Regions from separate parts of the Homo sapiens genome. Here regions 1, 2 and 4 are each linked to region 3. The links come from fine-mapping of genetic effects on gene expression. A gene starts in region 3. Each other region holds a variant in brackets. All regions are shown on one strand. Distances are from middle to middle.

Region 1 (2,681 bases), 140 kb after region 3:
GGCCCCATCTGGAGCCAGGTTTCTGGAAGTAAAGTCGCTGTCCTGCCTGCGGTTGTGGTAACGGACCCGGTGCGGGAAGTCTGGCTGAGGCTTCATGTTCAGGCCTCCCCTGTGTTTTGTTGGCAGATGATACATGTGCCAAAGTCAAAGAAAATCAAGAAATGGCTTTGGAGAAAACAGACAACATCCACGACGTGATGGTACGTCCCCTGCATGCGTCATGGTCAGCTGCGGCCTCTCCAAAGCTTCTCACACCGTCGCCCTGCTCCGTGCCCACTCTCCCATGTCCTGGGGGGATGGCAGCCCGGCGAGGGCAAAGCCCCAGTCACAGCAGGGCCCCTTGACCGGGCAGCAGGGCCTGGCTGCCCCCAGGGGTGGGGCGAGCCCTTCGGTGCTGGATGAGCCGCTGTGTAGTGGGTGGACCCGGTGCTCCCAGCTCCCCTCCACCCACACTGGGCTGGCCTGCTGTGCGCATGTGGAAGCTGAGGGCACTGAGGCCCGGCAGGGCTCGGACAGCCCGGCTGGTGTGTTGCAGGATGGGGCCTGGCCAGCGAGTGAGCTCCTGTCTCCAGCAACACAGTAGTATGTGCCTCCCCACCTCCCCAGCCCAGCCTAGTCCCTCCGGGGCTCCCAACACTCCACCATAAAGAGGGCGAAAGAGAAACCAGGGTGGGAGGCGGCATTTGCAGTACTTAAAATTTAAAAGATCAAATGTCCAGAATATATGAAGAACTCACAAATCAGTAATGAAAAGACAAATAGAAAAATGGGCCCAGATTTGATGAGGCGCCTCCCACATGGCCAGTGAGCTCGCCCTTCCAGGTTCCTGGAGTCAGTGCCATTCCTACAGAGCATCCTGGGTGCTCCAGCGGCTCCCACAGGTCCGTGGGCAGTGGTGTGGACACATCAGAACATTCCTCACTGTTCTGGAGGCTGGAGTCTGGGTTGGGGCAGTGTGGCTGGGTGCTGTGAGAGTGTCCTGCTTCATGGACGGCTGGCTTCTCTCTGCGTCCTCACCCAGGGGCGAGGGTTTTTCTGGGGCCTCTTTTATAAGGGTGCTAGCCCATCATAAGGGGCTC[A/G]GGCTCATGACCTAATCCTAAAGCCTCCTATGCCATCGCCCTGGGGATGAGGATTGTAGCACATGCATTCCAGAGAGACAGAAACATTCTGCTCATTGTGCCTGGAGGACAGACAGAAGCAGGTGGCAGTTACCGGGTGGGGGCGGCTGGGGGACTTCGGCTCTGTTGACGATGCTGTTTCTCACCCCAGTACCCAGTGGTTAGTGATTAGTATGCTATTATTTACACACACACACACACACACACACACACACTTTTTTGGGGGGGTGTTTTCAGATGGAGTCTCACTCTGTTGCCCAGGCTGGGGTACAATGGTGCAATCTCGGCTCACTGCAACCTCTGCCTCCTGGGTTCAAGTGATTCTCCTGCCTCAGCCTCCGGAGTAGTTGGGATTACAGGCGCCCGCCACCACGCCCGGCTAATTTTTGTATTTTTAGTAGAGACGAGTTTCACCATGTTGGTCAGGCTGGTCTTGAACTCCTGGCCTCAGGTGATCTGCCTGCCTTGGCCTCCCAAAGTGTTGGGATTACAGGCGTGAGCCACTGCACCCAGCCTGGTTGGAATTTTGACTTAACACATGCCATTGTTATAAACAGAAAAGCACCAACAACAGGCCCCCAGCTCCACGACCAACCCCTCTATCAGCAGGGGAGGAGCGGGAGGCCAGTGCCTGGGGCTCAGGGAGGGGTGTGCAGGGCCCATGGTACAGGCCTGGGGGCTTCGGTCCTGGGGACTGTAAGCTCTGGGTTATGAAGTGTCGTGTCACCTCGGCAAGTGGCACGTCCCCACACCCACGTAGACCCCATGCGGACGGCTCAGACCCCACCTGCAGCCCCACATCGGGGTGGCCCCCCAGAGCCCGAGGCCCCTCTGTGGAAACCGTATGTGGTCCTGGTTGCGCCCCACATCCCATGTGCAGGAGGCCCACAAGGAGCACTACTGCCTGCAGCAGAGCCCGGCTGGGATCCTCACGCTGCACGCCATTTGTCCTCTGATGGTTGCCTCACTCCATCCCATCCTGGCTGGTGTGAACCTTGAATGCTGGGCATCAATAAAGACTTTTTTCTTGCCAGTCTAGGTTGGTAAAAAATGAGATGCCGTACCTCCTCTGGACCATCAAGAGGGACATCATTGACTATCACAGCCTGACCTACGACCAGATGCTGAACCACTACGCAAAGACAGCCTCCTTCACCACCAAGGTGAGCCGGCCGCGCTTGAGCGTGGCGGGAGCCGGCAAGGGTGGTGGGGAGGAGCTTCTGCAGCCATTAGGGACCCTCGGTGGCTGGTCAGTGGCCACCAGTCACCTCCTGGGTGCATCCCAGGACTCCTGGTCTAAGGCCGTGGCCAGAATCACTCGGTGCCCACCCCACCCCCAGCACCCCTGTGCCCTTTGCTCTGTGTCTCTGGGTGAATCCGGGGCCCCAGAAGCTCCCTCCTCAGGGCACAGAGGCCAAAGATGGGGCTGACTGGGGGCTGCCACCGGGCTTTGGGTGCTGAGGGGGCTGTGGGACCCCAGGGGAAGAGGTGCCGCTCCCCCCAGCACCGGGCACTCCCCCGCCTCCCCCGGCCTCCAGCCCTGCACAAAGCAGCTTGCCACAC
Region 2 (2,681 bases), 76 kb after region 3:
CCTCTTTCTCCTCCAGCCCACTTTTCTCTTTTAAATATTGAAGGCCTCAAAATCATCTTTGGAAAAAGGCATGAACCACAGATGGTTCCTGTGGATTTGTGGTCCTTTTTCCCAGGCATGTCCTTCACCTTGGCAAAGTGAACTTCTAACTTGATTGAGACCTGTCTCACATACCTTTTGGTTACAGGAGGAAAGGCAGGCAGGGAGGGGGTGGGTCAGAGCTGGGGCTGCCCCACAAGTAGGGAGCTCAGGGAAGCCTCGTCATGGCTAGCACACAAAGAAGAACACAGATACAGGAAATCTAATAATTTTTTTTTTTAATTGGAGATGGAGTCTGGCTCTGTTACCCAGGCTGGAGTGCAGTGGCGTGATCTCTGCTCACTGCAACTTCTGCTTCCCGGGTTCAAGCAATTCTCCTGCCTCAGCCTCCAGAGTAGCTGGGATTAAGGGTGTGCGCTGCCACGCCTGGCTAATTTTTTGTATTTTAGTAGAGATGGGGTTTCACCGTGTTGCCCAGGCTGTTCTCGAACTCCTGAGCTCAGGCAATCCGCCCGCCTTGGCCTCCCAAAGTCCTAGGATTACAGGCGTGAGCCACTGTGGCCAGCCAGAAATCCAATAATTTTAAGAACCAACTACATCCAATGCATTTTTTAAATGCCAAAATGTGAAACAACAAAACAGAAAAATCCACCCAAAACAGCAATCACCAATGTAAGATGAAGGATGAAGAGCGACCCCTAACTCCACCTTCAGTCAACCATAGAGATGGCTGAAAGCTTCCAAAAGACAGTCTTTTTTTTTTTTTTGAGATGGAGTGTCACTCTGTTGTGCAGGCTGGAGTGCAGTGGCGCGATCTCGGCTCACTGCAAGCTCCGCTTCCTGGGTTCACGCCATTCTCCTGCCTCAGCCTCCCGAGTAGCTGGGACTACAGGCGCCGGCCACCACGCCTGGCTAATTTTTTGTGTTTTTAGTAGAGATGGGGTTTCACCATGTTAGCCAGGATGGTTTCAATCTCCCGACCTTGTGATCCACCCACCTCGGCCTCCCAAAGTGCTGGTATTACGGGCGTGAGCCACCGCGCCCGGCAAGACAGTCTTCTTTTTTTTGAGACAGAGTCTTCCTCTGTCACCCAGGCTGGAGTGCAGTGGTGCAATCTCGCCTCACTGCAACCTCTGCCTCTTGGGTTCAAGTGATTCTCTTGCCTCAGCCTCCCAAGTAGCTGGGATTACAGGTGCCTGCCACCACAACCGGGTAATTTTTGTATTTTTAGTAGAGACAGGGTTTCTTCATATTGGCCAGGCTGGTCTCGAAC[T/C]CCTGACCTCATGATCTACCCGCCTCAGCATCCCAAAGCGTTGGGATTACAGGCGTGAGCCACCATGACCAGCCTCCTTTTCCTTTCTCTTTTTATTTTTTAAGACAGAGCCTTGCTGTGTTGCCCAGGCTAGAGTGCGGTAGCACGATCACAGCTCGCTGCAGCCTCAAGCTCCTAGGCTCAAGCAATCTTCCTGCTTCAACCTCGTGTGTAGCTGGGACCGGAGGTGCACACCACCATGCTCGGCTAATTTTTTTTTTTTTTTTTTTTTTGAGAAGGAGTCTCGCTCTGTCGCCCAGGCTGGAGTGCAGTGGCGCGATCTCGGCTCACTGCAAGCTCCACCTCCCGGGTTCACGCCATTCTCTTGCCTCAGCCTCCCAAGCAGCCGGGACTACAGGTGCCCGTCACCACGCCCGGCTAATTTTTTGTATTTTTTTAGTAGACACGGGGTTTCACCGTGTTAGCCAGGATGGTCTCGATCCCCTGACCTCATGATTCACCCGCCTCGGCCTCCCAGAGTGCTGAGATTACAGGCGTGAGCCACCGTGCCCGGCCTCGCTTGGCTAATTTTTTAATGTTTTGTAGAGATGGGGTCTCACTATGTTGCCCAGGCTGGTCTCAAATTCCTGGGCTCAGGCAATTCTCCTGCCACGGCCTCCTGAAGTGCTAGGGATGCTCTCCTCTTACCCCAACAACTCAGGGCTTGAAATGTCTACTATTTGGCTTATTAAAGTAACTCTTCAAAATATACTTATATGGGGCCTTTCACATCCCAAAGAAGAAAAGCGTTTTCTTTTTTTGAGACGGAGTTTTACTTGTCGCCCAGGCCTGAGTGCAGTGGCGCAATCTCAGCTCACTGCAACCTCTGCCTCTCAGGTTCAAGCAATTTTCCTGCCTCAGCCTCCCGAGTAGCTGGGATTACAGGCGAGCACCACCACGCCCAGCTAATTTTGTACTTTTAGTAGAGACAGAGTTTCACCACGTTGGTCAGGCTGGTCTTGAACTCCCAACCTCAGGTGATCCGTCTGCCTCAGCCTCCCAAAGTGCTAGGATTACAGGCGTTAGCCACCGCACCTGGCCAGAAAAGCATTTTCTTACCGCCTCTTCACTAGGGTCATACAAAGTGCCCTCCAGACATAGCATGACTGGCTGCTCTCCACCACCACTGCATTGACCACGTCACCTCTCCGGGGTGTGTACCCATCTGGCAGTTTCAAGGAGTCCAAGGTAAAGAAGATGCTTTCCTCTAACACCCCGTTCCTTCCACAGAGGCTAGAGATGCAGACCTGGGAGCAGAGAGCTGAGCGTCACAGGAAGCAGATGCTGCATGACGACAGGGCGCAGCTCTAACACACGCCCAAGTCAGCCC
Region 3 (2,681 bases):
ACCTGAAAGCTAGGAGGCTTCCATCTGGAGGCTACCGAGGCTGCGGGAGTCCCCGCAGGGAGCTTAGCACCTCCACAAGTTCCTGGTTGTTTCTGGGACGCTAGTGCCCAGACAGCTCCCACTCCATCTTTCTTGTAAGAGTTTTGACAAAGACACACGGCAGCTTCATGATAGCTCAGTTAAAAAGACCTTTTAAGTTTGGGCTGCGCACAGCGGGGGACGATCTGGCGTCCACTTCGCCCATATGGGAACCCCGCTCTGCTCCAATTGAAGGGCAAAGGCACCTACAGAAGAGCGAAGCCCCAGGTTTCAGCGGGGCCGGAGGGGACAACGGGGGTCCGGGGCCTCCCGCTCGGCCTCCCCCAGCACCCCCAGAGACCCGCAGGCCTGGGCCGCCTTCCTCCACTCTCACCTCGGCCGGCTCCACCGCAGGCGGCAGGCGGGGGTGGCTGGGGCCCTCCCGACCCGCGAGGACCCTGGGACTCGAGGTCCGACCCGCGCCTTCCCGCGAGGCCGCCGCTGACCCTCCCCGCCCCAGCCCTGGGGGGCTCCGCTCCTCGGCAGCGCCGCTCCCGGCAGCGGTGGCAGGGGACGCGCGGGGCCTGCTCCCGCCCCAAACCTGACCCGGGCCTGACCCCCACGACCTGCTCCCCCGGCTCCAAAACCTGACCCGGGCCTGGCCCCCCCAACGACCTGCCACCCCGGCCCCCAAACCTGACCCGGGCCCGGCCCCCAACGACCCTGGTCTACCAGCCCCAAACCCTGAATCTGACCCTGGCCTGACCCCCACGACCTGCTCCCCCGGCCCCAAAACCTGAACCTGATCCGGGCCTGACCCCCACGACCTGCTACCCCGGCCCCAAAACCTGACCCGGGCCTGACCCCCCCCGCCCCCGGCCCCCACCCCCCGACTCGGGCTCGCTCCCCCCGCCCCCCACAGTCACCCCGCGGCCCTGACCCGGGCCCGCCCCCCGCTCGGTGCTGGGCCCCGTCCTCACGCACGCGCCGTCCGCGCCGCGCGGCGTACCGAGGCGAGGCAGCGGCGCTCCTCAGCCGGCCTCCATGCGGCGCGGGCCCTCAACGGACGGGGCGGGCTGGGGCCGCGGGGCGGGGCGGGGCGGACGGGCCGAGGGCGCCGGCGGCCGCGTGGCATGCCGGGAAGTGTAGTCCCACGCGCCTCCTGCTTGGCCCCGGCCCGCAACTTCGGACTACACTTCCCAGGGGGTAGCGCGCGGGGCCCCCGCCCCCCCCCCCCCCCCCGGCGCTCCCGGGTCCTAAGGAACATCGGCGCGCACTCAGGAGGGAGGGTTCGAGTCCCGCCGCGGTCACGGCCTTGCGAGGCGCGCCCACGTTCTCTGGTCGCAGCTCCCAAGCTGTGAAATGGGGACAATGCTCGCACGGCGTCCACAGGATGGTTTTCAGTCGAATGATATTGAAATGTAACTGTTCTGTGAGCCGTCAGTCCCGCACGAAAGGGACAGCCGATAGTGGGACGCGAGGAGCCGAGAACACGGGATCAGGGAACGCGCTGCCATGGCCTCGGCCTGGCCCCCTTCCCTCTGGGGATCGGCCTAGTCCGTCCTCCGGGGGTCGGCCCAGAGCGGTCCCCGACCCGGGACTCATGCCTCAGCGGGACCTCGGCCTTGCCGCAGGTTGGGGCACCCCGGGAAGGTCGGGCCCCAGGGGCCCCGCGGCCAGCCTAGCGGACGGAGAACCGGGACCAGGTGGGAGTCTTAGGGCGGGCCGACCCCCGGCCTCACGGACCCGGACGCTCAGTCACTTCCGATCGTCCGGAGGCCTCCAGGGGGACCCGGCTGGCCGCAGCCACGCCGACGCTAGACTCTCGCTGTGCGTGTTCGGCCCCGAGGGCAGGGGGAGACGGCCAGGCCCCACCCGCCGCGCCCGTCCTGCCCGGGCGCCCGGCCCCCTCGCTGTACCCAGCCTCTACCGGGGCGGCCGGGACCCGGCGGCCAAGTTGCTGCGCGCTGCGGGCACCGGCGCGGACGGGGGCCCGGGCGCTTCGCCGCCGCATGCAGACGACTCGCTGCCCGCAAGCTGCTGCGCCGTCCGCCTGCCCCGCTCTCCTGCAATGGTCCGGCCGCGCATCCCGGGCCCACGACTTCCTTCCTCCTCCACGACCCCGGGTTCTTGGCTGACCTGGCGCTGGCGCTGGGCTTAGTGCAGGCGTGGGCCTGGCAATGGTTTGCCTGCGGGCTGCATGCGCGGACCCCACAGCCAGCTCCCCGAAGCTCTGCGCCCACCTCTACGGCCCTGCCCCAGCCAAAGGATCAGGTTCTTGGAGCGGGGCCTGCCCTGGGGCCAGGACTCCAGTCACCGGGGGAGGGCTGCTGTGTCTTCCTGCCAGGCACTGATGAGTTAGTTGGGGAAAGGGGCCAGGTGGGGCCAGCTGGGGAACCATTTAGAAGAGGGAGGAGGGCGCACCTCTCTACTCGAGTGCCCTAGGACTAGCTCCTCTCTGGAGCCACGGGGAGGACCTCAGTGAGGGCTGCCCCACGCAGGAACCTTCAGCGAGCCTGGAAGGCTGACCCAGCAGGCCTGGGGTTGGGGGAGTCCAACGCAGCGCCCAGGCTTGGTCTGGGTCTGCCTGAGGCCGTCCACCAGGACTCCGTGCTGGGGAGCCTGCTTCCTTCCAGGCTCCAGGAAGGGAGGCCCCGGCCCCA
Region 4 (2,681 bases), 28 kb before region 3:
GCCTGCAAAAGGCCCAACTTGTGACAGACACTGCGATCCTCCCCCTGACTCTGGAAAACACTGTCTGAAACCACAGTGACCCTAAGACTGTCTTAAAAACAAAATGAGAAGGGAGTCAAAGCAACGTACTGCAAAAAAGTCGACTACACACAAAGGTAGCAAGGGAGAACGTGAGCGACCAGAAACATGGCAGAAGCTCCCCCTCAGTAACTGCTTTGAAAGCGAATGGACTGATCGCTCCAACAAAAGGCAGATTGGCAAAGTGGGTGAAAAGACGATTTCCATGTTGTCACCACACGATCTGCAAGACGTTCAAAGACACGAACAGGCTGGAAGTGAAAGGATGAAGAAACCCAGGCAAAGAGTAACCTAAAGAGAGCTGAGGCGACTCTTAAACTCACAGCAGATAAGTTTTCTATTTTTTGAGACGGAGTCTTGCTCTGTTGCCGGGGCTGGAGTGCAGTGGCGCAATCTCGGCTCACTGCAACCTCCGCCTCCTGGGTTCCAGCAATTCTCCTACCTCAGCCTCCCGAGTAGCTGGGATTACAGGCATCCGCCACCATGCCTGGCTAATTTTTGTTTTTTGAGATGGAGTCTTGCTCTTGTTGCCTAGGCTGGAGTGCAGTGGCGTGATCTCAGCTCACTGCAACCTCCGCCTCTCCTGCCTCAGTCTCCTGAGTAGCTGAGATTACAGGCACCCACCACCATGCCTGGCTAATCTTTGTATTTTTAGTAGAGATGGAGTTTCACCATGTTGGCCAAACTGGTCTCGAACTCTTGACCTCAGGTGATCTGCCTGCCTCGGCCTCCCAAAGTGTTGGGATTACAGGCATGAGCCACCATGCCCGGCCAGAGAAGATTTTAAATAAAAAATTGTCAGAAGGGCCGGGAAAGGTGCTCACCCCTGTAATCCCAGCTACTTGGTAGGCTGAGGCAGGAGGATAACTAGAGCACAAGAAGTGGAGGCTGCAGTGAGCCGCAGCTGTGCCACTGCACTCCAGCCTGGGCAACAAAGTGAGACACATCCACCCTCAACAAAAAGTCGTTACAAGAGACAGCATTATATATGGATAAAAGAGTCAATTCATCAATAAAAATGTAAAAATTATAAACATGCACCCAATAAGAAAGCCCAAAAATGTAAACGTTGGCAGAATGGAAGGGACAGACAACAAACAGTTCTATCTATAGTAAGAGTTGGAGACTTAAACACACCACTTAATAATGGATAGACCATCTAGGGTTGGGAGCGGTGGCTCATGCCTGTAATCCCAGCACTTTGGGAGGCCGAGGCAGGTGGATCACGAGGTCAGGCGATCAAGACCATCCTGGCTAACACGGTGAAACCCCGTCTCTACTAAAAATACAAAAAA[AT/T]TACCCGGGCGTGGTGGCAGGCGCCTGTAGTCCCAGCTACTCGGGAGGCTGAGGCAGGAAAATGCCGTGAACCTGGGAGGTGGAGCTTGCAGTGAGCTGAGATCGCGCCACTGCACTCCAGCCTGGGTGACAGAGCAAGACTCCGTCTCAAAAAACAAAAAAACCATCCAGACAGAAGATCAATGAGAAATGGAAGACCTGAACAACAGCCTAAACCAACAAGACCAAACAGGCACATACACGGAACCCTCCACCCAGCAGAAGAGAGCACACCGTCTTCTCCAGGGCACACGGGTACAGGACGCTCTGCCCAGCAAAAGAGAGCACACCGTCTTCTCCAGGGCACACAGAAAGTTCTCCAAGATAAGCCACAAAACAAGTTGTAATAAACCTCAAAAGGCTGACATCTCTAGTCACAATGGAATGAAGCTAGAAATCACTTAAAAACACAACACACTGGCTGGGCGCGGCGGCTCATCCCCAGAATCCCAGCACTTTGGGAGGCTGAGGCAGATCACTTGCGATCAGGTGTTGGAGACCAGCCTGGCCAACATGGTGAAGCCCCATCTCTCCTAACAGTACAAAAATTAGCTAGGTGTGGTGGAGCATGCCAGTAGTCCCAGCTACTTGGGAGTCTGAAGGAGGAGAACCACTTGAGCCTGGGAGGCGGAGGTTGCAGTGAGCCAAGATCATGCCACTGCACTCCAGCTTGGGCGACAGAGTAAGACTCCGTCTAAAAACCAAAAAAACCCACAACATACCAAAATTGATGGACACAGCAAAAGCAGTGACCAGAAAGACATGCACAGTGTAAATGGCTACACTGAAGAAGATCTCCAATCAGTTACCTCAACTCACGCCTAAGGAACTGGAGAAAGAAGAGCCAAGATTAGAGGGAGACAATAGACTGAAGAAACAGGCACACGCTGCGTAACTCCACTTACACGAAGATTAGAGGGAGACAATAGACTGAAGAAACAGGCACACGCTGCGTAACTCCACTTAAACGAAGATTAGAGGGAGACAACAGACTGAAGAAACAGGCGCACGCTGCGTAACTCCACTTACACGAAGATTAGAGGGAGACAACAGACTGAAGAAACAGGCACACGCTGTGTAACTCCACTTACATGAAGGGTTTAGAGCAGTCAGGTTCACAGACTCGGAGCGGAGTGGTTGCTACCAGGGGCTGCAGGGAGGGGAATGGGGAGCTGGTAACCGGCTCACACAGGGTTTGGGTGGCGGATGTGAACAAGCTCCAGGGCTCGGCTGTACAGCACTGCTCCTGCGTCAGCTGTGATGTGCGG

Evidence for each region.
Region 1: its variant is fine-mapped to the expression of TRABD in whole blood (TOPMed, PIP 0.99).
Region 2: its variant is fine-mapped to the expression of TRABD in monocytes (Fairfax 2014, PIP 0.95).
Region 4: its variant is fine-mapped to the expression of TRABD in sun-exposed skin (GTEx, PIP above 0.99).

The regions. Positions count from the first base shown.
Region 1 is chr22:50,046,768-50,049,448 of GRCh38, reverse strand. TTLL8 (tubulin tyrosine ligase like 8) reads left to right here. Exons shown (of 14, transcript NM_001350317.3): 5 at 127-200; 6 at 2,153-2,281. Among named protein-coding and RNA genes, the nearest start is that of TTLL8, 10 kb to the left of the region's middle. The variant A/G (reference allele first, on the strand shown) is at 1,080.
Region 2 is chr22:50,108,574-50,111,254 of GRCh38, reverse strand. It overlaps MOV10L1 (Mov10 like RNA helicase 1), which reads right to left. Exons shown (of 27, transcript NM_018995.3): 5 at 2,411-2,598. Among named protein-coding and RNA genes, the nearest start is that of MOV10L1, 20 kb to the right of the region's middle. The variant T/C (reference allele first, on the strand shown) is at 1,313.
Region 3 is chr22:50,184,323-50,187,003 of GRCh38, reverse strand. TRABD (TraB domain containing) reads right to left here and starts at 1,091. Exons shown (of 10, transcript NM_001320485.2): 1 at 1,028-1,091. RefSeq lists silencers at 343-652, 919-1,288, 1,559-1,658, 1,849-1,918.
Region 4 is chr22:50,212,508-50,215,188 of GRCh38, reverse strand. The region is part of intron 5 of SELENOO (selenoprotein O); the gene reads right to left. Among named protein-coding and RNA genes, the nearest start is that of SELENOO-AS1, 3.7 kb to the right of the region's middle. The variant AT/T (reference allele first, on the strand shown) is at 1,374.